4 linked regions of the Homo sapiens genome follow. The protein of the gene in region 3 purifies or fractionates together with the protein of the main gene of each other region. This does not show direct contact. Each region holds a gene or a part of one and is shown on either strand. Other genes may lie near its edges. The genes, in order: VAMP8, STX7, STX8 and STX12.

Region 1 (7,716 bases), on a different chromosome or scaffold from region 3:
ATCATGCTGGCATTAACTAGGAGGAAGGGGCTGGCATTAACTAGGAGGAAGGGGCTGGCATGGAAAGGAGGAGGTGTATATGAGAGGCACAACCAAGAATAAACCAAGATTTGGCCCATTGCTTCTTGGGCTACAACTCCTATAACCAAGCAGTTCAGCAGTTTTTCCTTACAAAGTCACTTCACTGAATATATATATATATATTATGTTTGAGGCTGGGGCGGTGGCTTACACCTGTAATCCCAGTGATTTGGGAGGCCGAGGTGGGCAGATCACTTGAGGTCAGGAGTTCGAGACCAGCCTGCCCAACATAGTGAAACCTCGTCTCTACTAAAAATACAAAAATTAGCTGAGCATGGTGGCGCATGTGCCTGTATTCCCAGCTACTTGGGAGGCTGAGGCAGGAGAATCACTTGAACCCAGGAGGCAGAGGTTGCAGTGAGCCGAGATTGCGCCACTACACTCCAGCCTGGGCAACAAGAGCAAAACTCCTTCTCAAAAAACAGAAAAAGAAAAAAGAAAAAGACAGGGTCTCACTATGTTGCTCAGGCTAGTCTCGAAATCCCAGGCTCAAGCAATCCTCTCACCTCAGCCTCCCAAAGTGCTGGGATTACAGGTGTGAGCCACTGCACCTGGTCTACTGAATTTTTTGAGTGCTAAGCACAGATGATGAGGTAACTGAGGCTTAGAGTTGTTATGCAAGTTTGTCCCAGGTCATGTAAATATTAAGGTATGGATCAGCCACCATGCCCAGTGATAAGCCACATTACAATATGTATTTTAACATTTTTCACTAATCACATAATTTACATTTTTCTACTGGCCAAATTTTAAAAGTAAGAGAAACAGGGCTGGATGCAGTAGCTCATGCCTGTAATGCTAACACTTTAGGAGGCTGAGGCAGGAGGATCACTTGAAACCAGGAATTTGAGGTTACAATGAACTATGATTGTGACACTGTACTCCAGCCTGGGTGACAGTGAGACCCTGTCTCAAAAAAAATAAATAAATAAATAAAAATGAATTTTAAAAAATAAAGAAACAGGTGAAATTATTATTATTATTATTTTTTTTTTTTGGAGACAGTCTCACTCTGTTACTCAGGCTGGAGTGCAGTGGCGCCATCACGGCTCACTGCAACCTCTGCTTCCCAGGTTCAAGTGATTCTCTTGCCTCAGCCTCCCGAGTAGCTGGGATTACAGGCAAGCGCCACCACGTCCAGCTAATTTTTGTATTTTTAGTAGAGACGGAGTTTCACCATGTTGGCCAGGCTGGTCTCAATCTCCTGACCTCATGATCGGCCTGCCTCAGCCTCTCAAAGTGCTGGGATTATAGGTGTGAGCCACCATCCCCGGCTGAAATTAATTTTATTTATTTTATTAATCTTTTATTTAACTCAATATATCCAAACATTATTTCGCCACATAATCAATATATAAAATTATTATTATTATCATTATTAGTGACAGGGTCTATCTCTGTCTCCCAGGCTGGAGTGCAGTGGCACTATCATAGCTCACTGATGTCTCACACCCCTGGGCTCAAGTGATCCTTCTGTGCTAGCTCTCCAAGCAGCTAGGACTATGGACATGCACCACTATGCCTGGCTAATTTTATTTTATTATTTATTTATTATTGGTTTTTTTTTTTGAGATAGAGTCTCACTCTTGTTGCCCAGGCTGGAGTGCAATGGTGTGATATCGGCTCACTGCAGCCTCCACCTCCCGGGTTCAAGCAATTCTCCTGCCTCAGCCTCCCGAGTAGCTAGGATTACAGGCATGCGCCACCATGCCTGGCTAATTTTGTATTTTTAGTAAAGATGGGTTTTCTCCATGTTGGTCAAGAGCTGGTCTCGAACTCCCGACCTCAGGTGATCTGCCCATCTCGGCCTCTCAAAGTGCTGGGATTACAGGCGTGAGCCACGGTGCCCAGCCAATTTTATTTTTTTAATTTTACTTTATTTTTATTTTATTATTATTATTATTATTATTATTACTTGAGACAGAGTCTCACTCTGTCGCCCAGGCTGAATTGCAACGGTGTGATCTCGGCTTACTGCAACCTCCGCCTCCAAGGTTCAAGCGACTCTCCTGCCTCAGCCTTCCGAGTAGTTGGGAATACAGGTGCCCACCACCATGCCCAGCTAGTTTTTGTATTTTTAGTAGAGATGGGGTTTCGACATGTTGATCAGGCTGGTGTCAAACTTCTGACCTCAGGTGATCCACTGCCTCGGCCTCCCAAAGGGCTGGGATTACAGGCATGAGCCACTGTGTCCAACAGTTTTATTTTTTTATAGAGACAGTGTCTTGATATGTTGTTGCCCAGGCTTATATATAATATTTGCTGAGCATGGTGGGTTATGCCTATAATCCCAGCACTTTGGGAGGCTGAGGTGGGAGAATCACTTGAGGTTTGGAGTTTGAGACCAGTTTGGACAACACAGCAAGACACTGTCTCCAAAAAAAAAAAAAAATTAACTGGACATGGTGGCCCTTGCCTGTAGTCCCAGCTAACTGGGGAGGATGAGGTGAGAAGATTGCTTGAGCCCAGGAGTTCAAGGCTGCAGTGAGCTTGAACACACTGCACTGTACTCTAGCCTGGATGACAGAGTGGGACCCTGCCTCTAAAAAAAAAAAAAAAAAGCTACAGGGGTCCGAAGTTTGTTTAAAGCTTTTAAAAAGGCATTTGTGGCCGGGCGCGGTGGCTCACGCCTGTAATCCCAGCACTTTGGGAGGCCAAGGCGGGCGGATCACCTGAGAGGTCAGGAGTTCGAGACCACCCTGACTAACATGGTAAGACCCTGTCTCTACTAAAAATACAAAAAAATTAGCCGTGCCTGGTGGCATGCACCTGTAGTCCCAGCTACTAGGGAGGCTGAAGCAGGAAAATCGCTTGAACCTGGGAGGCAGAGGCTGCAGTGAGCCGAGATAGCGCCATTGCACTCCAACCTGGGCAACAAGAGAGAAACATCTCAAAAAAAAAAAAAATTATTTGTGTCTGGATGTGGTGGCTCACACCTATGATCCCAACACTTTGGGAAGCTGAGGAGGGAGGATTACTTGAGAACAGGAGTTTGAGACCAGCCTGGGCAACATGGTAAGACCCCCATCTCTACAAAAAGTTTTAAAATAAATTAGCCAGACATGGCGGTTCGCACCTGTAGTTTCAGTTACTGGGGAGGCTGAGGCAGGACGATCGCTGTAGCCCAGGAGTTCAAGGCTGCAGGGTGCTACGATCATGCCACTGGACTCTAGCCTGGGTGACAGAGGGAGACTATCTCAAGAAAACAAAACAAAATAAACAAACAAAAAAAGTGTTTGTTGGAGAAGCTGACATTTCCTCCTTGGAACTGATTTCTTCTGGAATGGGTCAAGAATGTTCGTTCCCTTCTGAATGTCCCTGTTATTGTTCTTCTGTCTTGATAAACACTGTCAAGGAAGATCAGATTTTCTCTGGCCTGGAGCCAGGTTAGTGGAAAAATCCTTTGCCTTGGGCCCCCTGCTCTGGTTCACTGGGGCAGTCCTCTGATCACTGACTGGGATCAATTACCTCTGCGGTAGCCCCTAAAGGGAAATGCAGAATTGCTGAACTCTGGAAGGGAAGGAGAGGTTTGGTGAGCCATCATTATAGACACTGTGCTAGTGGCATTGCACTGCACATGCTATCTTTTTGCTTCTTTTTTTTTTTTTTTTTTTGAGGCAGAGTCTTGCTCTTGTCACCCAGGCTGGAGTGCAATGGCATGATCTCAGCTCACTGCAATCTCTGTCTCCCGGGTTCAAGCAATTCTCCTGCCTCAGCCTCCTGAGTAGCTGGGATTATAGGCAACTGCCACCACGCCTGTTTATTATTTTGTATTTTTAGTAGAGACAGGGTTTCGCCATGTTGGCCAGGCTGGTCTTTAACTCCTGACCTTGTGATCTGCCCGCCTCGGCCTCCCAAAGTGCTGGGATTACAGGCGTGAGCCACCACGCCCGGCCTCTTTTTGCTTCTTACCAGCACCATCTGAGCTAAGCATCAGCACCTGCAAACTCCACAGAGGTGAAAAGTTTCCCTGAGGGGCCTGTAACTAGTAACCCAGAACTTTCTGAATCAGAGCCCAGGATCACAGTATTCCAGACTTCAGGGATTTTAGTGCTTTCTGCCACCCAGGGACCTGGGAACAAGTGTTATCCAGCAATACATTTTCATAACTGCATTTTGTTTCCCTGTGAGCTAGGCCTGGCATGGTTGATCTCAGTCTCTAGAAACTGGAGTCAGATATTCAAGACATTACAAGGAGATGGCTGGTGGGGCATCATGGCTCCTAGGACTTTGGGAGGTTGAGGTGGGAGGATCGCCTGAGCCCAGGAGTTTGAGACCAGCCTGGGCAACATGGTGAGAACTCGTCTCTATTTAAAAAAAAAAAAAAAAAAAAAAAGGCTGCCCTTTCTAGATCAGGAGGTCCAGCCTCTGGAAACCTCGGAGGGCTGCTTGATCTTTCTTTTCTAATTCCTGACAAGTTAGAAGACCTTTGGCTTCTGAGAACCCTATTACTTTAAGTTTAAGCTCTTGTTTGGGAAGCCACTGGGAGGACAGTGAAGAATGCCCGCCTACCTGGGGAAACCTGAGTTAGGTGTGGCTGGAGCGACTCGAGATGCGAGGTGGGCGGGGGCAGGCTGAAAGTTGGAGCAAGCAGGAAGTGAACTGAGGGCCACCCTGGGAGGAAGCCGACTAGGCGAATTCACTTACTGACCGGCCTGGGCTGCTCTGAGACATGGTGAGCCAACTGGGAACTAGGAAAGGGCTGGTTTAAAGAGGAGCCAGAGGGGGCTTGGGACTGGGGGTTGGCTGTGTCGGGGGAGGAGAGTTGGTGGCAAAGTTAGAGGGCTGGGCCAGTGCTGCTATGGCCTCTCTTCTTTGACAACTTGGCTGCAAATAGCTCTGAGCTGTCCTGGCAGGTGTTTCTACTCCTTCTCCCTCCCTCCCCTGACCTCTGTGCTGGTGGGGAGCTGGGCTTCCGTGCCAGCGCCGATGGGGGCTCCGAATTCCAGGCAAAGAGTTGTTGTGCCTTCCTCCTCCAGGGAGCCCGAGGCGGGTGTTGTGACACCACACCAGGCAGCGCCTGGGCAGTTCCCAGTTCAGATTCCAGCCCAGCGGCAGAAGCTCTCCTCTCCGGCCTTTCACTTTATCCCCACACAGAAACACAAAGGATTTGTGTGTCCACTGAGTCCTTTGGGTGTCCTTTCTCCATTAACATGGAGAAGAGAACTAAAGGTTTATAAGAGAACCAGAAGTTGGTTCTCTGTGATAATGTAGTTCTGACCCATGCCACTGGCCTATTTTTGGAGGTCAAGCGGGGAGGAGCTAAATACTATTTTTCTCTCCTTGTTCAAAAACCTTGTCATGAAGCCTCCGAGATGAGACATCAGCCAGGGAGGACTAGTCCTCCATTTCCCCCAACACCCAGGCGGGTATTTTTATTTAATATCTGCATAAGCAGGCGGTTGCTTGGTGCCTGCACGTGTCGCCCAGTGGTGGGGAAAGCAGAAGTGTGTGGCTCAACGGCTCCAGGCGCCTTCTGGGATACTTGGTTGCCTGTTGTTCTGGGTCACAGCAATGGCATTGCGGCCAGGGCCGTGCTCCGGCAGCTGGCTTAGAGGGACAGATGGGTGGGGCTGGGTGAGGGTGTTCTGCTGGCCAGCACAGACACTTTCAACCAGGGTCCCAAGAAATCAGGAAAGGGGGGTGGCTCTGGGAATTGTAAATAGTGGCGGGCTCTGCTCTGGAAGGGAACATTGTGAGATGCTGGCCCTGCTGTATTCTACGGCCCTCTCTAGGGAGCAAGGAAGCAGTGGGGAGGGATTTAGTGATGTGCTGCTTTTCCTTGTCAGGGGCCCTAATAACCCCAAAAGAAGTTTGATCTAGTCTGTTCAGCATCACATCTCACCTTCTGGGGCTTACAAATGCATTTATTTTTGATTACAGAAGTAATACATGAAAACATTCTCTTTGTAAACATTTCAAGCATTTTACAAAAAGCTTAAGTCTGCCTGAGGCCTTACCCTCCCCAGATCTCTGAGCCCAAGTCTCCAGTTCCCCCACCACTTGGTCTAATTAACCCCGTGTTGCCGCACAGGAGGAAGCCAGTGAAGGTGGAGGAAATGATCGTGTGCGGAACCTGCAAAGTGAGGTGGAGGGAGTTAAGAATATTATGACCCAGAATGTGGAGCGGATCCTGGCCCGGGGGGAAAACTTGGAACATCTCCGCAACAAGACAGAGGATCTGGAAGCCACAGTGAGACAGGGAGCCCACTGGGGGCTGGAGGAAAACAGGGAGGGAGGGAATTTCTTTTTGGTGGGGCAAAATGGACAGGAGGGCCAGAAGTTTGACATTTCTGTTGCCTTTCACCTGGTTTGGGAGCTGATGTGAGCTGAGTCTCCACTTCTGAATCTGCTCTGCTCCACAGATTGTTATGGATCCCAGGGAATGGATCCCATGACTGGGGCTTGAGGTGGCAGCTCGCCCATAGAGGCATGTTCTGAGACCGAAAGCTCAGTCAGCCCATGCATTCTCAGGCTTCTCTCCCGGGAAACTTGTTTTCCCTTTGAAGCCTGCCCATGACAATCATCTGGGTCTGACCTTCCCAGGGCAGAAATATTGGCTCTGAGGAAACCCCCGCTGTGGCCTCTAGCCTTCTCTAGGAGCTGTTAGACAAGGGGTGGGAAATTGCTGGCGTCTTGCTGAGTAGGCTTTAAAAAGAAGGGGGAAAGAGCAGTGAAATGCTTTGATCCCAGGGTCCCCTGCTAGATGAAGGCTAAAATAATATCTCCCACACATCTTGCTAGACCTCATTCTTCTCTCTCTCCAGCCAGGGGCTGAGGCCAGCTGTTTCAGGGAGGAAGTAACTCCAAAGTTGAGCAAAGTCTGGAGCCTCAAGTTCTGTGTTCAGCGGGGAGGCTGGCTCTGGCTTTCTGAGTCCTGTGTGAACTCTTGGCTCTTGGGTATTGCTCCCTTGTCTCCCTGGGGCTCATTGCCTGTTTCTGTAGCTTAATTGTAGCTTAATTTGGGGAGCATGGCCCCGGGAATTTTTTTTTTTTTTTTAGACAGAGCCTCACTCTGTTGCCCAGGTTAGAGTGAGTGCAATCTTGGCTCACTGCAAACTTCACCTCCTGGGTTCAAACGATTCTCGTGCCTCAGCCTCCTGAGTAGCTGGGATTACAGTGTGCACCCCCACACCTGGCTAATTTTTTGTATTTTTAGTAGAGACGAAGTTTTGCCTTGTTGGCCAGGGTGGTCTTGACCTCCTGACCTCAGGTGATCCACCTGCCTTGGCCTCTCAAAGTGCTGGGATTACAGACTTGAGCCACCATGTCTGGACAAGCCCCAGGAAATTTAGTGTCTATAACTTGAATTGCTGGGCATGGGGAAGAGTGGGTGGAGGAGGAGGAGTTCCCTTACTTCCAACCCTCTATCCTGTCCTGGTCCCTCCTCCAGCCTCAGCAGTCCCGATGGGGCAAGGAGTCCTGGAGCTGCGAGATGTGCCCACCTGGAGCCTGCACCCCTCAGTCCCAGGGTCTGCCCTCCCAAGGGCAGATTTTGCTGCCAGTGTTGTACCCTTGGGTGTAAGCAGGTGTCGAGGACCCCTCAGTGTGCAGGGGTAAGAAGAGAAAGGGGACCCCTAGTCATATCTAGGTGGAGACCTCCTAGGATCCTGAGAATTCTAAATTTCAACCCGG
Region 2 (7,025 bases), on a different chromosome or scaffold from region 3:
TACCTAGCTGTATTTTGGTGTTAGTTAACCAACCTTTGGCTATCCCCTTCCCGCCATCCTTCTCTGCTTCTAGTAACCACTATAATTTTAACAGCCCATTTAGTTAGTGGCTAGTCTGTTAGTACAGGTCTAGGTAATGAATTATATAATTATTATTCTGAGCAATTAAATAGGAATTCTGAGTGGGCTTTCAAAAGTATTCAACAAGAGTACTTTAGTGCGTAGCAGCTCTGGGCTAGGTAATGGAGACTGATGTGGAAAGCAGACATCTGAATAACTCAGCATCCATTTAGCCTATATGCAGAGATCATAAGCTTTTAATCAATTTGTAGTTACCTATCCTGTCTGTCTATGCTTGTATATATATTTTTTAAAGACAACCATTTGGTTCCTTTCCTTTGTGTGTCTCATTATCAAAAGAGCCAACTGTTGTTGCCTTTTAGATACCACTTATTAGCAGAATAATAGAGAAAAGGAGTAAGCTATTCCTCTGTGTTACCTTGATCAACTCATGTAGTTATCCCAAACATATTCCTTCATCTTAGGAGTGGGAATAGCAAAACTTCATATGGGGCATGCAGAAAAGTGGTAAATTTGGTTTTTCTTTTGTCTTTTTTTATTTTATGTTATGTTATGTTATGTTATGTTATGTTATGTTATGTTATGTTATGTTATGTTATGTTATTTTGAGACGAGTCTCGCTCTGTCGCCGGGCTGGAGTGCAGTGGCGTGATCTTGGCTCACTGCAACCTCCGCCTCCTGGGTTCAAGCGATTGTCCTGCCTCAGCCTCCTGAGTAGCTGGCACTACAGGCGCATGCCACCACACCCAGTTAATTTTTTTAGTAGAGATGAGATTTCACCATGTTGGCCAGGATGGTCTCAATCTCTTGACCTTGTCATCTGCCTGTCTTGGCCTTCCAAAGTTCCGGGATTACAGGCGTGAGCCACCGCGCCCAGCCCAAATTTGGTTTTTCTAACTGAGTTCACCTGCCCTCAATTTTGTTATACAAGGAAGCAGTATGGCTTAGTGTTTAAAAAATGTCGGCTCTGTGGTTATTTTCAAATATTTGCTCCTTTGCTTATAATGATAATGAGGCATAATGATATGCCTCAGTTTCTTCATGTAAAAAAATCACATTAGCAATTATACCCACATGATAGGCTTATAAGAATTAACTGAGAAAATAAATTTAAAAGTCATAAGCACAATGCTTAGGAAATGTAAGTCCTGGATGAGTGTTGGCCATTGTTAACTTTGTTTTATTTTACACATCTTTCTTCTCTATCTTTTGCAAATTGCTTTTCATTCTTCACACATGATTCCTGGCTAGATACAGTGGCTCAAACCTGTAATCCCAGCACTTTGGGAGGCTGAGACTGGAGGATCGCATGAGCCCAGGAGTTCAAGACCAGTCTGGGCAACAAAGTGAGACCCCCATCTCTATAAAAAAATCAAAAAATTAGTGGGATGTGGTGGCAGGTGCCTGTGGACCCAGCTACTCGGGATGCTGAGATGGGAGGATTGCCTGAGCCTGGAAGTCAGGGCTGCAGTGAGTCGTAATCACACCACTGCACTCCAGCCTGGGTGCTCCTGTCTCAAACAACAACAACGCCAAACAAAGAAAAAGTAAAACAAAACTCATAATTCCAGTCAATCTAAGTAGCACCTCTTTGGGTGAATGAAGCCACTTGCCAATTGTCTCACCAGCAGGAACTTTCTCACATTTAGTAGCTTGAGGAAAGGGATGAAGAAAATTGATTGTGTTTGTGACTAAGTGATTGATTTTCCAGAGAGGAAAAAAGGTGGCCTTGAAAGAAAACAGTGAGAAGACTTGGGCTACACTGGTGTGAGTTTTAAGGGTAAGGAAAATGCTGTAGAATACTGTCCTTGACTTGATGGAACTCTTTATGGGAGAGAGAGTAGGCCTCAGGTGTGCTTGCATGGTTTTGAGACAGGTGATGAGTTTCTCTTGGTCTTGTGCTGATGCTGGTCCTGCAGCTGCAAGAACAGATCATAACTTTCCTCTGTGTAGGGTGGAAAAGCATTTGTTCTCTGGATGTGCATTATCTCATTTTGATTCTGGCAGTGGGCCCAAATGCTAAGTGTCTTGCCCAAAGTAGAAATTTCCAGTTGCTACTTCCATGGTGTGCCGCACAGGCAATGGCTGAGTTCTTGTAGCTTCACAGACATGTAGACACGAGAGAAAGCCAAGGGTACGAGCTGGAGACATGGATGTGCGACTCATTCAGGTATAGATTAAAATGGAACCATGTATATGGAGGAGCATCCCCAGAGATTACATGAATAACAAACTGAACATTTTTTCATTCAATGTGTTTGTTTTGGCTTGTAAGCCAGTTTTTCCAGAGATCTACTTGATAGAGGGAAAGGAGAAAGGAAGATGTCATTGAACCAAGAGAAAATTGTCTTTCTCCATACCTTGGAATATTATTTGGCAATAATGAAGGAATATTATTTGGCAATAATGAAGGAATGAAGGACTGATATATGATACAGCACAGATGGACTTTGGAAGCATACTAAGAGAAAGAAGCTAGTCTCGAAGAACACATTGTATGATTCCATTCCTATGAAATGTCCAGAATAGCAAAGCTATAAAGATACAAAGTAGATTAGTAGTCACCTTTGGCCAGTGAGGTTGGGGAGAAATGGAGAGCGATTGCTAATGATTACAAACTTTCCTTTTAGCGTAATAGAAATGTTCTAAAAGTGATGATTGTACAATGTTGTAAATATATTAAAAACCATTGGCTTGTGTACTTCAAGTAGGTGTATTGTATTGCCATATCTCAATAAATTATATCTCAATAAAGCCATTTTATTTATATAAATTTAAGGGGTGCACATGCAGTTTTGTTACATGGTTATATTGCATAGCGTGAAGTCTGGGCTTTTAGTGTAATCATCACCTGAATAATGTACATTGTACGCATTAAGTAATTTCTCATCCCTCACCCTCCCATCCTTTTGAGTCTCCAATGTCTTCTTATTCCACTCTCTGTCCATGTGTACACATTATTTAGGTTCCACTTACAAGTGAGAACATGCAGCATTTGACTTTTTTCTGAGTCATTTCACTTAAGATAATGGCCTCCAGTTCATCTGTGTTGCTGTGAAAGACATAACTTCAGTCTTTTTTAAGGTTGAATAGTATTCCATTGCATTTATATACACTACATTTTCTTTATCCATTCAGGAATGTTAATAGACACTTGATGGGCACTTAGGTTAATTCCAAATCTTTGTTCTTGTGAATATTGCTACAATAGACATATGAGTGCAGATTATCTTTTTGGTATAATGGTTTTTTTTTTCTTTTGGGTAGATACCCAGTAACGAGGTTACTGGATCAAATATTAATTCTATTTTTAGTTCTTTGATGACTTGCCATGCTGTTTTCTGTAGAGGTTGTACTACTTTACAGTCTCACCAACAGTGTGTGTGTTCCTGTTTCTCTGCATTCTTGCCAACATCTGTACTTGTTTGACTTTTTTTCTTTTTTTTCCGTTCAAGATGTGTTTGTGGATGAATTTTTAATAGCCATTCTGACTGTTGTGAGATGATGTCTCATTGTGGTATTAATTTGCATTTATCTGGTGCTTACTGATGTTAAACATTTTTCATGTGCTTCTTGGCCATTTGTATGTCTTCTTTTGAAAAATGTCTATTCATGTGCTTTGCCCCCTTTTTAATGGGGTTATTTGTGGGGTTTTTTGTTGAGTTGTTTGAGTTTCTTGTAAATTCTGGATATTAATCTCGTTGGATGTGTAGTTTGCAGATATTTTTCTCCCATTCTGCAGGTTGTCTGTTCATTCTGTTTATTATTTCTTTTGCTGTGCAAAAGCTTTTTAGTTTAATTAAATCTCATTTTGTCTGTTTTTTGTCTTGTTGCCTGTGCTTTTGAGGTCTTAGTCATAAATTCTTTTCCTAAACCAATGTCCAGAAGAGTTTTCCCTATATTTTCTTTTAGTATTTTAATCGTTTTAGGTATTACTTTTAAGTCTTTAATCCATCTTGAGTCGATTTTTTTTTTTATATGTTGACAGATAAGGGTCCAGTTTCACTCTTCCGCATGGGGCGATCCAATTTTCCCAGCACCATGTATTGAAAAGGGCGTCCTTTCCTCAGTGTATGTTTTTGTCAACTTTGTCAAAAAGATCAATTGACTGTAGATATGTGACTTTACTTCTGACTTCTCTATTCCATTCCATTGTTCTATGTGTCTGTTTTTATATGAATATCATGCTGTTTTAGTTACTATACCCTTTTAGTATAATTTGAGGTCAGGCAATGAGATGCCTCCAGCTTTGTTCTTTTTCTTAAAATTGCTTTGGCTATTCAAAACCTGTGTTTTTTTTTTTTTTTTTTTTTTTTTAAGTGACTTGGAGATGCATTTAAAATTGCATGGTTTCAAGGATGTTCCGGATGGTGTTGGTGTCATTGAATCCCCATGTCTACTCTTGTTCTGTCTGGGCCCAAGTCCAAGGCTACCTGGAAGGAAGTTTATTCCTGTCTCCCCACTGTAGTGGTCCAGCTGTCTGACTTTAGGTTTGAATTTACCCTTTAATGAAATTGCTTTTGGATCCATCTCTAGGATTTGGTGAGACCCAGAGAGCCCAGAATAGATCAGCTGTACCTGAGAGGGAAGTTGGAGAATATCTAAAAGCCACCAGGACTTTCAGCGTGGCCAGGCACATTCAAAGTGCACCAGAGTTCCAGGCATAGAACCAGTACTGTTCTAATGGTCTCAACAGTTCAGCTGTTGTACTTCCTGCCAACACTGTCCCTTAGAGCAAAGACACATACTTCACTGTGGCTTCTTCTCTACCAGAAATCTTCTGTGGCATTAGTTCTATGTGGTAGCAAGCATGGATAGCCTTGGCATCAGAACCCTGGGACTGAATCTCACCTCCACCTGTGGGTGGGTTGGGTTACCATTACTTAATCATAATAAGCCCGCTGTTTGCTCATCATTAAAACAAGAATAATGCCACTTAATTGAAGGAGGTTGTGAAAAAATTAGTCTGTGAAATACTTTTTGTGTCGCAGATGTGCGAGAAATGTTAGGCCATTCCTCTCTTTCCCTTTATGTTGTTTTCCCCTTGTCCCAGCTGTGAATCATCTGATCCAGGGTTGGCCAGGAACCTTCCCTTCCTTTTGTAAATACCATACTGCATGTGGCCTTTCCACGTGCTCTGGGTCTCTCCACCCCAGCCTTCACGTCCTTGCCTTTGTTGTTCTGCATACTGGTCATAACCAAGCATCCAAATCCTATGTTTCTATTTCATAAATTCTTTCCAGACAAGGATGATGGTCATTTTTTCTTTTTGTAGCCCTTCTCATTTTAGCCTAGCACGTGATCTTTTATGGATTTGTGGGGTTTTTTGTTGGTTTGCATTATTAACTTTATCCTTCCTCCTAAATGACAAACTTGATTTGAGCAGATACTGTGTCAGTGTGTTTTGTTTTGTTTGCATCTCCCAGGTGCTTAGTTTAATGCTGGGCATGTACCAGGCTCTTAGTAGAGAGCTAGCTTACAAATTGACCACCAACAATTTTGCAGTATTCCAGTGCATATTCATGGAAAAGATGGGGTGGCGGTAGTTGAAATTCTTTGCTGTGCGCAGTTCTGTATGCAGGGACATTCCTTTTCAACCTTCTTTCCAAACCCTGATTGGAGTGGTGTGGATTGAAGAGGTAGAGAATGTCATCTCACCTGCCTCCTGTGGCAGTATCTCAGTGTCTCTTCTATTCTGAGATGCTGGCTGCTGAAAGGGGAGAGTCATTCGTTCTCCTTCCTCTGTCAGGAAGGTTTGATAAACATTTTATATGACATTTGCTTCGCAGTAGTTGGCTCTGCTATTTCAGATTTAACCTTTTCCATTAAAATTAGAGCCCTATTAATCATACATTCCTGAGCAGGTCCTGTGTGTGTGTTAAATTAGATATTAAGGTTGGTACAAAAGTAATTGCCATTTTTACCATTACTTTTAATGGCAAAAACCACAATTAAAAGTAATGGTAAAAACTGCAATTACTTTTGCACAACCTAATACAGTGAAATTTCTGGGGATAGCCTGAAGTCTGTGTTCCATTTAATAAATATTTAAATGCCTGTTTGTGCTAAGAGTTGTTTTAAATATTGGAGAAAGATAAATAAGCATGTGGGCCCTGCCTTATAATTGTTTGGAGTTTAGTTAAGGAAAAAATATGTAAACAACTAAAATTATATACAGGTAAGGGATTTAATAATTTTTCTTGAAGAGATCAAAGACGTTTTCAAAGGAAATATGCAATTTGAACCTTATTTTAATTGTTTGATGTGTTTAACATGACTCTGTCCTTTGAAGTCCAGTTTTTTTTTTTTTAGTAGACATGAGAGTTTTGCTATTTGATGTGTCACTTTGCCAGATTTCAACTCTATTAGATTAATCAAGTTTGTCCTTGTAACTTCACAGATTGTTAATTTGGAAAATGTAAGCCAGTAACTTAAAAAATATATCTGTGTGACTTTTATATTATTTAGGTGACTGCTTAGAAAACTGCACAGCATCTGATGAAATTAGCGAATAAGAACATCAACCATGTCTTACACTCCAGGAGTTGGTGGTGACCCCGCCCAGTTGGCCCAGAGGATCTCTTCTAACATCCAGAAGATCACACAGTGTTGTGAGTTGAGTTTTAAATGGACTTCACTATTTGTATCCACTCTTAACTGAACTTGGTGGAGGTTCATAAAAGGACAACTCTGCTGATTGAGAGAGGGAGGAGCATTCCTCTAACAACAGGTTTTAAAGGGCTCGAACTCTTTAGAATGAATGCAAGAGAATTATATTTGAGATAACACTTACTGCATTTTTCTATAGGAAGTCAGGGCCAGGCACATAATACATTATTTCATTAAATAAAATAAAGATTTAAAAGGATAATGGATTCTTATATCTGCTTTAAAGCTATCTGGTTCTAGATGAGATGATGAGACCTGATGACTCAGTCTCATAG
Region 3 (7,025 bases):
GCTGCTGCTACACAGCTCTGGCTTTGCAGGATGCTGAGTGCAGAAGGCAGGGGCCTGGGTGTGGCCAGGCCCCCCCAGGCAGCACTCAAGCCAGGAGGGGGTGAGGCCCCTAACTCTAGCATCTGTGTACACCTTGGACCACAAGGGAGGGCGCAAGCTGCTGACGACAGCCACCCTCACTACCCAATCAGATTATGCATTGATGACGCATTGATAAAGCAAAGGGCTTAGGAGAGCATTCTAGAACCCATTTCTCCATTCTCCACATGGCTTCACTTTGTGTTCTTGAGTCCAAGATCCTTAAGTCACCCATTTGTAAAAATATTCACCGATAGAGGTGCTTGTTTTGATATATACTTTTTCTGCTAGTATTTGCTAGTTTCATTTCCTGACGTTTTTGGCTGGAGAGCACAGGCCCTCCTAGCCAGCCCATGCTGGGTGCCACTCTGCCTTCCAGCCCCGCCCTGCCTCCTCTGGGTCGTGTGTCTGCACTGACCATTGCCTGTTCCTTCACCTGATGCTGATGAAGTGGGCCCCACAGAATGCAGCCCTCACTTAGTGCAATGAGCTCACTGTCTCCCATGTTCGCTTGCCCAGTATTTAACGAGTGTTTACCACGTGCCAGGTACCAGCGGCGACAAGGTATAGCATAACAGAGAAGGGGCGCCCTACTACAAAGTAAGCACTCAAGAAAGGTTTGCTCACTGAAGAGTCCTTGAGCTGCCAAGGCCCCACGAGAGAGGTGGGTAGCAGAGGAGGAGAGGTCCATGAAAATGCTTCAGAAAGTAACAGGGAGAGCCACGTGTGCAGGGTCACATGGTTGCACAGCCATCAGGACTGCTGAACGCCACGGTAGTCTGTGGCATATGTTCGTGAGCAAAGAAAATGCTAAATTTCAATTAGACATTTGTGAACATAAGAGTCCAATTTGCTTTCCGGTCCAAGTTCACGGGCTTCCCGAATCCCCTCCACAGATCCTCAGGGTTCAATGTGGATCAGGCCATACCAATCTTAAGCTCAACCCATGTGGGCACTGCACCATGGTTTTGAATATTGAAGAGACTTAAAAATGTATGGCAAGTGGCTGGGTGCAGTGGCTCACACCTGTAATCCCAGCACTTTGGGAGGCCAAGGCGGGCGGATCATCTGAGGTCAGGAGTTCGAGACCAGCCTGACCAACATGGTGAAACCCCATCTCTATTAAAAATATATTTAAAAAAATAGGCCGGGCACGGTGCCTCATGCCTGTAATCCCAGCACTTTGGGAGGCCGAGGCGGGCAGATCATCTGAGGTCAGGAGTTCGAGACCAGCCTGGCTAACATGGTGAAACCCCGTCTCTACTAAAAATATATTTAAAAAATTGGCCGGGCGCAGTGGCTCACGCCTGTAATCCCAGCACTTTGGGAGGCCGAGGCGGGCGGACCATGAGGTCAGGAGATCGAGACCATCCTGGCTAACATGGTGAAACCCCATCTCTACTAAAAGTACAAAAAATTAGCCTGGCGTGGTGGCAGGCGCCTGTAGTCCCACCTACTTGGGAGGCTGAGGCAGGAGAATGGCGTGAACCCGGGAGGCGGAGCTTGCAGTGAGCCGAGATTGCGCCACTGCACTCCAAACTGGGCAACAGAGCAAGACTCTGTCTCAAAAAAAAAAAAAATATTAGCCAGGTGTGGTGGTGGGTGCCTGTAATCCCAGCTACTTGGGAGGCTAAGGCAAGAGAATCGTTTGAACACGGGAGGCGGAGGTTGCAGTGAGCTGAGATCACACCACTGCAATACAGCCTGTGCAACAACAGTGAAACTCTGTCTCAAAAAAAAAAAAAAAAGAAAACGAAAATAAAAAAAAAAACTAGGGCAAGCTTCTTTGTCATCTACCTGTGACTGTGGTTGCATTTTTCTGATATGGGCTCTTTCTCTGATGATCCAATCTTTTGAGAAACGCTTCTCTTGGGGCCCCAAGGTTTCTCCCCCGTCTTCCTGTAGATGAAAACCTCATCCTAGTCTACCTCAAGGCTCTGCCAACTTTGGTTCATGGGCCAAATCTAGCTGTGCTCTGTTTTTGTGCAACCCATGAGCTAACAATGGTTTTTATATTTGTAGAGGGTTGTCAAAAAGGTAAAAGGAGGAGATGTGACACCGTCTGTGGTCTGCACAGCCTAAACCGTTTACGACCTGGCCTCTTCCAGAGGCTTGCTAGCTCCTGCTCTCCATCATCATGATGATGACCCACCTGCAGCATCAGTTCGCCCACTTAGGCGCTGGCCTTCAATGCGCTCTTCATTTCTTTCATCTAGGGATTTCCTTTCTTCCTTGTAAATTCAGCCCTGCATTAACATTTGTGGGTGGGTGGAGTTACACTATTTTACCTCACATTTCAAGATGCTTGCAGCAAGAAGGCAGGGGTAGGGGTGTGTGTGTGTGTGTGTGTGTGTGTGTGTGTGTGTGAATATCTTAGTCCATCTGCAGTGAGAAGGTAGGGATACGGGTGTGTGTGTGTATGCGTATGTGTGTGTATGTGAGAATATCTTAGTCCATCTTCTTGCCAGAAGCAGAAGAACAAATCTTTTCACTGATTTCTGCTCCAGAAACATCTTCAGGTTGACCAAAAGCTCCCCTGGGCAGGAGCTTCACTAGTTCTTGGTTATTCTGGTGCCTGTGTGGTGATCAGCTGAAGACTTGGTCCTGGCTGGGTGAAGGTTTATGTTGCGCAACATGAGGAGAAGATAACGAGAATGAGGAGGCAGGCACAGGCTGGGATGGGGCGAAGGGGCAATCCCTGGCACTCCAGGGCCTGGGCTCACCCTAAGATGACAGGGAGGGGCTGGCAGCTGAGGAGATGAGGGAGAGGATGAGAGGTGTTTTAGGAAGAGGTACTGCTCCTGAAGCTCCAGTGGGATCACAGTTGGGAGGACACTTGGGCCCAGAAGCTCCATGCATCAAGGCAGGCTCCACACTGAGGCTCTGATGGCCTGGAGCAGAGGCCAGTATGAATGACCGTGAATTGTCAAATCAGGGTGATTATGAGAAGAGCGGAGCAAGTGACAAGAACAAAGAAATCAAGAACAACAACTGATTGGGAAGAAGAAAACACACATCTGGTTTTGGTTCATACACCCGGAGCGTGAGGTCCAAGGGAAGAGGCCTCAAGGCATGCGCAGTCACTGCCATCCCTGATTTGGCTCCCTGCAGTGAGGGACTGCTTTCCCCGGTCCCTGCTCCACGATGGAACTACAGCAAGCTTTTCAGAATGTAAAGGAGATCAGGTCACCTCCTTGCTTAAATCCTCCAGTGGCTGAAACTGAGATCCAAACTTTACAGTGGCCAAGGGGGTCTTGCACAGTCTGACCCAGCAACCCTGCAGCCGCACTCTGCGCGCTGTGTTTGAGCCATCCTGGCTGTCTCCGGTGCCCCCAACAGGCTGATGCAGAAGGTAGGGGCCCTGCCTCCCAGCTTCGACACGCGCTATCCTTTCCATCCGGGAGCTCCCCACTCGTGGTCTAGTTAATCCCTCAAACTCAGTGGCATTTTCCCAAAGAACTCTTTGTCATCCTCCAGTTACCTGTGCCCTCTTTGCCCCCCTAAGTTTCCATGGTAACTCTTATTAAATCTTTTTTTTTTTTGAGATGGAGTCTCGCGCCCAGGCTAGAGTGCGGTGACGTGATCTTGGCTCACTGCAGCCTCCGCCTCCTGGGTTCAAGCAATTCTCCTGCTTTAGCCTCCCAAGTAGCGGGGATTACAGGTGCCCACCACTATGCCCGGCTAATTTTTGTATTTTTAGTAGAGACAGGGTTTCACCATGTTGGCCAGGCTGGTCTCGAACTCCTGACCTCAAGTGATTTGCCCTCCTGGGCCTCCCAAAGTGCTGGGATTACAGGCGTGAGCCACCGCGCCCGGCCTTGAATCATTATTTAGGTACTCAGTTACTGTCTGTCTCTCCTGGACACATGAACATCTACACCAGGGACTGTGGGTTCTCGTTCACCGCCATATCCCCCGTACCTAGAACAGAGCCTGGCACAGGAAAGAGGCACACACACACGCGCACGTGTGTGCATGTGTGTGTGTGTGTATAAAACAAATGAGTAAATGTATTGAATTTTTGGAAGGGATAAGAAGAGTCAAGAGAGGCATAGAAGGAGTGGTCAGCAGAGAGGGAGAAGCTGAGAAAATGTGGCAAGAAGGCCAATGAGTAAGAAAATTCAAAAAGTGGCCAATGCCAACCCACAATACTACAGAGACAAGATAGAAGAATGCTCTTCCACAGAAGAGCTGCAGAGACCTTTCATAGTACAGTTTTAGCGCATGGTGGGTGGGTCTAGTGGAACTATTATTAATACAGTGGTGGCTAAGCTGCTAATTTTTCTACCACAGATGCTGTGAATTAGACAAACTGTGCCCCAGGAAAGGCATGACAGGGCACACATTATCTATAAAAAATGAAAATGGGCCAGGCGCTGTGGCTCACGCCTGTAATCCCAGCACTTTGGGAGGCCAAGGCGGGCGGATCATCTGAGGTCAGGAGTTTGAGACCAGCCTGGCCAACACAGAGAAACCACGTCTCTACTAAAAATACAAAAATTAACCGGGCATGGTGGTGCACGCTTGTAGTCCCAGCTACTTGGGAGGCTGAGGCAGGAGAATCACTTGAACTCGGGAGGCGGAGGTTGTGGTGAACTGAGATTGTGCCACTGCACTCCAGCCTGGGCAACAGAGCAAGACTCCATCTCAAAATAAATAAATAAATAAATAAATAAATATATAAATAAATAAATAAATAAATAAATAAATGAAAATGAACTTGAGTGATGGACATCTTGGACAGTAAGCTGATAAGATGTGATAAACTGGGTTCTTGTCCCAAGATGAAAAGGAGGATTTTAGGAGCCATGACAAATAAGGCTTTTATATTTTAAACCCTTTCAGAGCAAACAGGGGGAGACTTTAAACAGGCTTAAGTAAACTGGTATATACTGAGGGTCAACTGAGGAGGTCGTTTTAAGATGGCAGGTGACAGCGATAAGCAAAAGCCAACTGCTGTCTTTTGGATTCTTTGGGTCAAAGAGAAGGTGTTTATCTACCTTAGCACGGCAATCCTTTTTCTTTAAGAAGTTTGGCTTTCTTCGAATGTGATCCCAGCTCTGGCACCTTTCTGAATGGAGTTTCTCTCCTCTGAAGGATGTTTCGGAATGAGTAAGCAGGGATCTTTTTGAAGCCAGGGAAAGCTGAGCCACACCGTTCATGAAACAGTCATGCGTGCCAGGTTTGGCACTAAGTGCTATGGGTGTATTACTTGGTTTAATTCTGCACAGTAAGTAACCCTCATCTCTGTTTTATATCTGAGGAAGCTGGGGTTCTGGAAGGTGAACTCTCCTACCTAAGGCCCTCTGGCGGGTAAGAGGAAGAACTAGAATTGGAATCCAGGTGGGTAGGACCCCTCTGCCCACACGCTCACCCTTGTCTACACCAGTGGAGCTTGAGTGGAGGCATCCTGATTCGAGACAGTGTGGGGGTCCCTCGGGGAGAGAGGCTCAGACTCACTGGGGTTGAAACACCGGGATCAAGAGTTTCTTCTCTTTTCATCCTCTTCTCTTTCTCCCTCCCTCCTTCCCTTCCTTAACGTTTTATGATGGAAAATTTTAAACATATACAAAAGCAGACCGAAGGGCACGCAGAACAGTGATGAGCCCATCCGTCAGCTTTCGCAAGGATCCATTCATGGCCTGTCTGGCTTTATGCAAACCCTCACCTGCTCCCTGTCTCCTGCATATTATTTTGAAACAAATTCCAGACATAGGTCATCTACAAATATTTCAGTAAGTATCACTAAAAGGCACCATTAAAAAGACACACACACTCCCCCACTACCCACATAACCACAGAGGGTCTGACGGTTCCTAAAGGCAGAGGCAGGGAAGAGCTGGCAACTCTTCTGATGTAGGAAGGTGGCTCCAGTTTCAGGGGCGCAGCCGACCCCCCTGCCGGAGGGACATGGGACCTCACATCGTACTCGGTCACGTGTGAAAAGCAGAACTTCCTTCTTCTGCCTCAGAATAGTTCTTAAACCTCAGGGGGGTCTACTCATCCATTCCCCCAGCTAAGGAAATGTTTGACATTTCAGAACAAGGAAAGACAGTTGAACTTCTGGGAGGCTGCCAACTTCTTAAACAATGAATGCTCTCTGCCCCCAACCCTAGCACAGAACACCTGCTGCGGCTCCTGACTTCGGGATCGTTTCTCTGCGCTTCACTCAGCTCCTGCCCTGGGCCCGCTGGCACCTGGCGAGGCAGATTTTCCCTTCCAATACTCAAGAGTCCCTTTCAGGGGCAGGCATGGGATGCCAGGGTTACAAGAGTGGAAAAAAATGTCCATTTCCTTTGGTCAGTTTACCAGATGAGTATTACTCAACCACTTACAATATTTACAAGTCCAGCTCATGGCAATTAAAAAAAGATGTAAGAAAACAAACTCCTTTTCAAACTGGGAGAGGATATTAAACACAGTCTCTCAGGAATGGTGTTTTCTGAAGACTCGTCATCTGGAGTCATGGTCCATACTTTTTTCCAGTGAAACACTGGAAACGAGCAAAATACGGAGCTTGTGCTGCCAACGCCCCTGCCACAAGTTGGGTGTAGGTAACAGCTCTCAGTGCTTACTGACATGGAGGAGGAGGGGAAGGAGGAGAAAGAATCTGGAGGCTGACTTTTCGAGAGAGTGTGGATCTCTGTGTTGGCCACTTCTGCCCTGTAGCTGCAGGGGAACGTGGCAAGTAGGCTGATGGGAAAGCAAGAGGCAGGGAGGGGTGAAGGGCGCTTTATCCAGGAGTCTTTTTATCTGGTTTTGTTGCAAGGAAAGCCGCCTTAGCTGCCTACTACTATTTTGGTTGTCTTGAACCAAAACACATATTCTGGCCAGGCGTGGTGACTTATGCCTGTAACCCCAGCACTTTGGGAGGCCAAGGCGAGTGGATCACCTGAGGTCAGGAGATTGAGACCAGCCTGGCCAGCATGGCCAAACCCCGTCTCTAC
Region 4 (6,750 bases), on a different chromosome or scaffold from region 3:
AAACCCGTCTCTACTAAAAATACAAAAAATTAGCTACGCCTGGTGGCATGCACCTGTAGTCCCAGCTACTCGGGAGGCTGAGGCAGGAGAATCCCTTGAACCCAGGAGGTGGAGGTTGCAGTGAGCCGAGATTGCGCCACTGTATTCCAGCCTGGGTGACAGAATGAGACTTCGTCTCAATTAAAAAAAAAAAAAAAATGGAGTTAGTCATATCAGCTATAGAGTTAAAGTATGTTTAGGAATGCCGTTTTAAAAATTACCAAATTTATTTTTCGTAGCAATTTTTTTATGTTATCAAATGTAGAAGTTAAATGAGGCCTCATGAATACTCAGTCCCATTGACTTCTTTGTACATCTTTGTTTAGAGAAATAGCTCTCAGCTTCCCAGCTTTTATCTCAACAAACTTGCAAAATTATGGGGTTAGTAACCCTTTTTTTTTTTTTGAGACGGAGTTTTGCTGTTGTTGCCCAGGCTGGAGTGCGATGGTGCGATCTTGGCTCACCACAACCTCCGCCTCCTGGGTTCAAACAATTCTGCTGCCTCAGCCTCCCGAGTAGCTGGGATTACAAGCATGTGCCACCACGCCCGCTAATTTTGTAGTTTTAGTAGAGACGGGGTTTCTCCATGTTGGTCAGGCTGGTCTTGAACTCTCGACCTCAGGTGATCTGCCCGCCTTGGCCTCCCAGGTGGTGGGATTACAGGCGTGAGCCACCACGCCTGGCCAGTAACTCTTTTTTTTAAAGCTTTCTATGTGGAAATAATTTCGAGTTTATTAAAAGTTGCAAAAATAGGCTGGGCATGGTTGCTCACGCTTGTAATCCCAGCACTTTGGGAGGCTGAGGTGGGAGGATCACTTGAAGCCAGGAGTTCAAGACTAGCCTAGGCAACATAGTAAGACCCTGTCTTTACCAAAAAATTAGCCAGGCATAGTAACATGCACCTGTAGTCCTAGCTACTCAGGAGGCTGAGGTGGGAAGATCACTTGAACCCAGGAGTTGGAGGCTACGGTGAACTATTATTGTACCACTGCACTCCAGTCTAGGTGACAGAGTGAGATCCCGTCTCTTAAAAAAAAAAAAAAAAAAAAGGTAGCAAAAATAAAAATATTATAAGGACCTTCTTTATACCCTTTACCCAGATTTACCTCTTGTTAACATTCTACCCCATTTGCTTTATTATGTATTCTTTCTCTCTTTCTCTATGTGTATCTACATAATTTTTTATGAATCATTTATGGGTAAGTTAAATACTTCATAGCCCCCAAAAATTCATTGTTTTTTCTCCAAAGAAAAGGCTAGTCTCTTACCAAGGTAGTAACTCGATTTCATGGCTGGATAGTTTGGATAGTGGTAGTGAAACCAGGACATGTAACATCAGAAATCTGTTCAATTTGCAGTCTTAAAACATCTGAGTGTGTTAAAACATCCTCTGTCCTTCCTTTTGCAGATAGCATAGAAGCCAATGTGGAAAGCTCAGAGGTGCACGTCGAAAGAGCCACTGAACAGTTACAGCGAGCTGCTTACTATCAGGTAAAAGCGGGTACCAAAGAAAGTCACTCTGTGTTGCAGACTTTTTAGGCCATCAGAGTACATTGACATATTGAGAACAGCTACAGCCTTTGCTTAGGTTTAAGCTAAAGGAAAGTAGTCATAATTGCAGTCCCAGTTCCATTTTTATTATTTTCCTTTGCAGATAGATCTACAAAAAATAATCACACCTTGAATAAACTTATCAGAAGGCTAGTAACTGCAAAGCTAACCCTATACACTAATATGATACCTAAATCTGCTATGAGGCTGTTTTATATCCCGAACAGCTGAATGTATTTCAATTAGGATAGTAAGAAGTACAGTTAAAGTAGAAGACTTCATAGATTCTTTATGTTGAGTGTTGCCATAGAGGATGGACATAGAATCAACTTCGACTGCTATTTATATATGAATAAATAAGGATAATCATTCTGGAACTGTTCCTGTAAAGTGAAATCCTTCTACATGTTAGTTGAAACTCTGGTTTTTTTACTTATCCAAGTCTTTATCTCAGTGTACAAATAATGTGAATGAAGTCTTTCTCACTTCCCTTCAATTTGGTGTTGCATGGCTTTTTAGAAATAAATAGCATTTCATGTCCTTCGCCCACTTTTTGATGGGGTTGTTTGTTTTTTTCTTGTAAATTTGTTTGAGTTCATTGTAGATTCTGGATGTTAGCCCTTTGTCAGATGAGCAGGTTGCGAAAATCTTCTCCCATTTTATAGGTTGCCTGTTCACTCTGATGGTAGTTTCTTTTGCTGTGCAGAAGCTCTTTAGTTTAATTAGATCCCATTTGTCAGTTTTGGCTTTTGTTGCCATTGCTTTTGGTGTTTTAGACATGAAGTCCTTGCCCATCCTATGTCCTGAATGGTAATCAGTGTGGCGATTCCTCAGGGATCTAGAACTAGAAATACCATTTGACCCAGCCATCCCATTACTGGGTATATACCCAAAGGACTATAAATCATGCTGCTATAAAGACACATGCACACGTATGTTTATTGCGGCATTATTCACAATAGCAAAGACTTGGAACCAACCCAAATGTCCAACAGTGATAGACTGGATTAAGAAAATGTGGCACATATACACCATGGAATACTATGCAGCCATAAAAAACGATGAGTTCGTGTCCTTTGTAGGGACATGGATGAAATTGGAAATCATCATTCTCAGTAAACTATTGCAAGAACAAAAAACCAAACACTGCATATTCTCACTCATAGGTGGGAATTGAACAATGAGAACACATGGACACAGGAAGGGGAACATCACACTCTGGGGACTGTTGTGGGGTGGGGGGAGGGATAGCATTGGGAGATATACCTAATGCTAGATGACGAGTTAGTGGGTGCAGCACACCAGCATGGCACATGTATACATATGTAACTAACCTGCACATTGTGCACATGTACCCTAAAACTTAACGTATAATTAAAAAAAAAAAAAAGAAGAAATAGCATTTCAGTTGTTTTCCGTGTTCCTGGGATAGCTGTATTTTACCTGGGAGTGCTCGTAAAGAAATTCGTATTTAATAATAGTGTTTCCTTTAAAAACTAGGTGATTAATTTAGTGTCCAACAGTAAAGGAATAATTAAGTAAATTATATACATCCACTCATTGTTGCATATGGGAATTAAGAGATGTTTCTGAAGAGTTTAAACAGAAAAATGTTTATACTAAACATTAAGTGAGGAAAAACATCAAACATCATACAATGTGATCCAGTTATGTCAAATAATATACATAGATAACAAATCAGAAAGAAATACAAAAATGTTGACGGTATTATCTATGGGTGATTTTTTTTTCTCCCTCCGCTTGCTGTATTTTTTTTTTTACAATGAACATAACAGTTTTATACGTATTATAAAATGTTATTAAAATACACATGCACAAATAACTTATTTTATTGCAAATAATGCCTGGCAGCACAGGTATAGTTCCTTTGCAAAATTGTATGTGGGGACTTGGAATTAAAACTTTGAAACCTATACTACTCGGCTGGGTGCGGTGGCCCACGCCTGTAATCCCAGCCCTTTGGGAAGCCGAGGCAGGTAGATCACTTGAGGTCAGGAGTTCGAGATCAGCCTGGCCAACACTGGTGAAACCCCGTCTCTACTAAAAATACAAAAACTAGCTGGGCATAGTGGCACACGCCTGTAATTCCAGCTGCTCAGGAGGCTGAGACATTAGAATCACTTGAACCTGGAAGGTGGAGGTTTCAGTTAGCCAAGATCGCACCACGGCACTCCAGCCTGGGTGACGGAGTGAGACTCTGTCTCAAGAAAAAAAAAAACACCAAACAAACAAAAAACACTTGCACTACTACCTAGTGCTGCTGACTTAAGATTTCTGGGAAAGTCTGTGCATAATTTTGCATGGATAGAGTTAATCTTTAATTACAAGGAGGCAGATTTATGAAGCATTCTTAGAGTCTTACACATACAAATTTTACTTGTTTCATGAGTATCTTGTTTACATATTTCTTTCCTCAGAAAAAATCTCGCAAGAAGATGTGTATCCTGGTGCTTGTCCTGTCAGTGATTATTCTAATCTTGGGACTTATTATCTGGCTAGTTTATAAAACGAAGTGATTGCCTCCGATCGTTCTCCCGCTGAGCTGTTTTCAAGGGCAAGTGCTTGTTGAAGTCTTGCCAGAACAAACTGATCACAAGAAGACAGCATATATCAGAACGTCCTGTAATCATTTAGTTAGAAACTAACTACTAACTAGTCTTTGGAATTCGTGACCTATGGAGACAGTAATTATCAATTTATTGATTCTATTGATTTCTCAAATTAGGAATTAACTTATGTGGATTTTGCTTCCTCTTGTATTCTGATTGCCCTTCATCCCAAGTGTTTACTGAAAATTCCATTCTAGATATTCTTGTTTTGACAAATGACACTACAGTCTCGTAATATTGTCTTTTATGTATATACAAAATTTACCTTTTTACTAGCATCTGAGATAGAGTTACTTTCTGGTACCCAGTATATTGGAGTCTGTCAGAAACTCTATAATAGGCCACCAGTTTTTATTATTTAACATTTTTATTTGAATTTCTAAGAAGCCTATTCTCTATCTATTTTGAAAGATTTTGGCACTATATTTAATTGGAAGGTAAAATATTGTACATGTGATCCAGAGTAAATGAGAAGTCTCTATCTGAGCTGGTCAGTTACTGGAGTACATGTTACTAATCTGGGTTTAAAGTTTACTTCATTATCTGCTAGTGTCATCCACAGCAGTTCATCCTCATCCACACTAAGCCATCCTGTTAGCTTTTAAAGGAAGTTAATTTAATTAACATTAATATACTCTATGGGCTCCCTCTCCCACCTGTCTGCATAGAAAGGCAGAATTAGACATAGCATGCTTTGGAAAAGCAAATAGGAATTGTTGGGAATGATTTAATCTTGTTGTTGTTGTTGTTGTTGTTCACTTGTGGTTCTACATTCCTGGTGAATGATGAATGTTGCTGTCAAAGGGCTGCCCCCTACCTTATAAGGGTTGCTGGGCATTTGAAGGCAGGAAGATTTTTAAAGATAGATTGAGGTTGGTTTAAAATTATTCCTGTAAACCAACAATAAAGCAAAGAAGAGGTTCATTTTTGTAAATAACACTGGTTTCAAATAGTGATGTTAGACTTAACCTAATTTATAAACAAGAGATTAATATCTCCATGCATAGTTTTAGACAAAAAAAGATGTTTCAATAAAATTACTGTCTTGTAATATAAATGTTGTCCACTTCCCTTTTCCACAGGCCTAGAACAGTTAAAGGGAACATAATTTGTTTAGGCTCCCACATAAATGTGAATCTGGCCAACAACTTTGGTTCATCCTTTAGTGAATTAGAGGATTTGGCTACCCTGAGTATATTTATATTCATTTCTTCTGTTCTCCTTCTGTTATTATACTTAATCTTCTAAACTAAACTAATGTGAACAGTAGGGAAGCAAGGGCCCAAATGCATAAGTTTCTTTGCACTGTTGCACTTACTTAATACAAATAAATGTTTTTTAAAGCTTTTGTAGTATGTTTTTATGAGTTAACATCCTAATGTGGTAGGTATTAGGTAATGTGCTGTCATGAGAAAAATTGAGACTTCCAAGAAAACTGGACACCAGGTGAGGGTTGGTTTGGAGACGGAATAGGTGTAGCTGCCTTTCCTTGAAAAACAGTGTGTAGAGATGGCTGAGTGCAATGGCTCACACTTGTAATCCCAACACTTTGGAAGGCTGAGGCGGGAGGATCAGTATATCGGTACGTCTGAGCCCAAGAGTTCAAGATCAGCCTGGGCAGTATAGCAAGACCCCATCTCCATTTTTTTTTTAATGATTTTTTAATTAAAAAAAAGAACAACAGGATAGAGCTGTTGGGGTGGCACAGTGGCCCAAAGAGCAGCTTCAGAGATAATTCCTTGGTTCTATGATCCCTGTTTAACTCCAAATTACAGTCGGACTTGGATACATCATTTGTAACATTGTAGGAAAGAAAAAAGTCTTGGTTGTGAAAAACGATTTGCATTTGGGTAAAATAAAGTGACCATGCTTTTGTTCTGTAATACTGTGTGACCTGTGGTTGTTGTAATGGTGATCATGGAGAGCAAATATGAACTTGGCCTGGATTTTAAATGGCCTAGAATTTGTGGTAGTTGCCAAAGAGGTTCTCCTAGGTGGTCTTAATAAACCTATTCACAGAATTCTCCTTATCTGTGCCTTGATTATCATTGGGAGCATCACAATCTAGGACAGCAGTTTTTAACATGGCTTCACATTAGAAACTAAAAAAATACAGTGCCCACTTTGGCAGCACGTATATAAAATGGGAACAATAGAGAGAAGATTAGCATGGCCCCTGCACCAGGATGACTTGCAAATTCATGAATTCTCTCTCTCTGTCTCTCTCTCTGTGTGTATGTATATATATACTTTTTTTTTTTTTTTTTTTTTTGAGACAGGGTTTCACGCTGTCGCCCAGGCTGGAGTGCCGTGGCACAATCTCAGCTCACTGCAACCTCCACCTCCTGGGTTCAAGCAATTCTCATGCTTCAGCCTCCCAAGTATCTGGGATTACAGGTGCTCACCACAATGCCTGACTCATTTTTTAAAATATATTTTTAGTAGAGATGGGGTTGTACCATGTTAGCCAGGCTGGTCTGGAACTCCTGACCTCAAGTGATCCGCCCACCTCGGCTTCCCAAAGTGCTGC

What was found.
Region 1: the proteins of STX8 (region 3) and VAMP8 purify together in Homo sapiens (co-immunoprecipitation; 5 studies listed by BioGRID and IntAct, with this or other methods). This does not show direct contact.
Region 2: the proteins of STX8 (region 3) and STX7 purify together in Homo sapiens (affinity purification with mass spectrometry; 7 studies listed by BioGRID and IntAct, with this or other methods). This does not show direct contact.
Region 4: the proteins of STX8 (region 3) and STX12 purify together in Homo sapiens (affinity purification with mass spectrometry; 5 studies listed by BioGRID and IntAct, with this or other methods). This does not show direct contact.

The regions. Positions count from the first base shown.
Region 1 is NC_000002.12:85,572,894-85,580,609, forward strand, and holds the start of VAMP8 (vesicle-associated membrane protein 8), read left to right. Parts: upstream 1-4,692; 5' UTR 4,693-4,753; coding exon 4,754-4,756; intron 4,757-6,115; coding exon 6,116-6,274; intron 6,275-6,848; coding exon of another isoform or gene 6,849-6,981; intron 6,982-7,716. UniProt on the Homo sapiens protein: SNAREs, soluble N-ethylmaleimide-sensitive factor-attachment protein receptors, are essential proteins for fusion of cellular membranes.
Region 2 is NC_000006.12:132,503,113-132,510,137, reverse strand, and holds part of STX7 (syntaxin-7), read left to right. Parts: intron 1-6,549; 5' UTR 6,550-6,607; coding exon 6,608-6,692; intron 6,693-7,025. UniProt on the Homo sapiens protein: May be involved in protein trafficking from the plasma membrane to the early endosome (EE) as well as in homotypic fusion of endocytic organelles. Mediates the endocytic trafficking from early endosomes to late endosomes and lysosomes.
Region 3 is NC_000017.11:9,250,800-9,257,824, forward strand, and holds part of STX8 (syntaxin-8), read right to left. Parts: intron 1-7,025. UniProt on the Homo sapiens protein: Vesicle trafficking protein that functions in the early secretory pathway, possibly by mediating retrograde transport from cis-Golgi membranes to the ER.
Region 4 is NC_000001.11:27,818,203-27,824,952, forward strand, and holds the end of STX12 (syntaxin-12), read left to right. Parts: intron 1-1,447; coding exon 1,448-1,530; intron 1,531-4,028; coding exon 4,029-4,127; 3' UTR 4,128-6,241; downstream 6,242-6,750. UniProt on the Homo sapiens protein: SNARE promoting fusion of transport vesicles with target membranes. Together with SNARE STX6, promotes movement of vesicles from endosomes to the cell membrane, and may therefore function in the endocytic recycling pathway.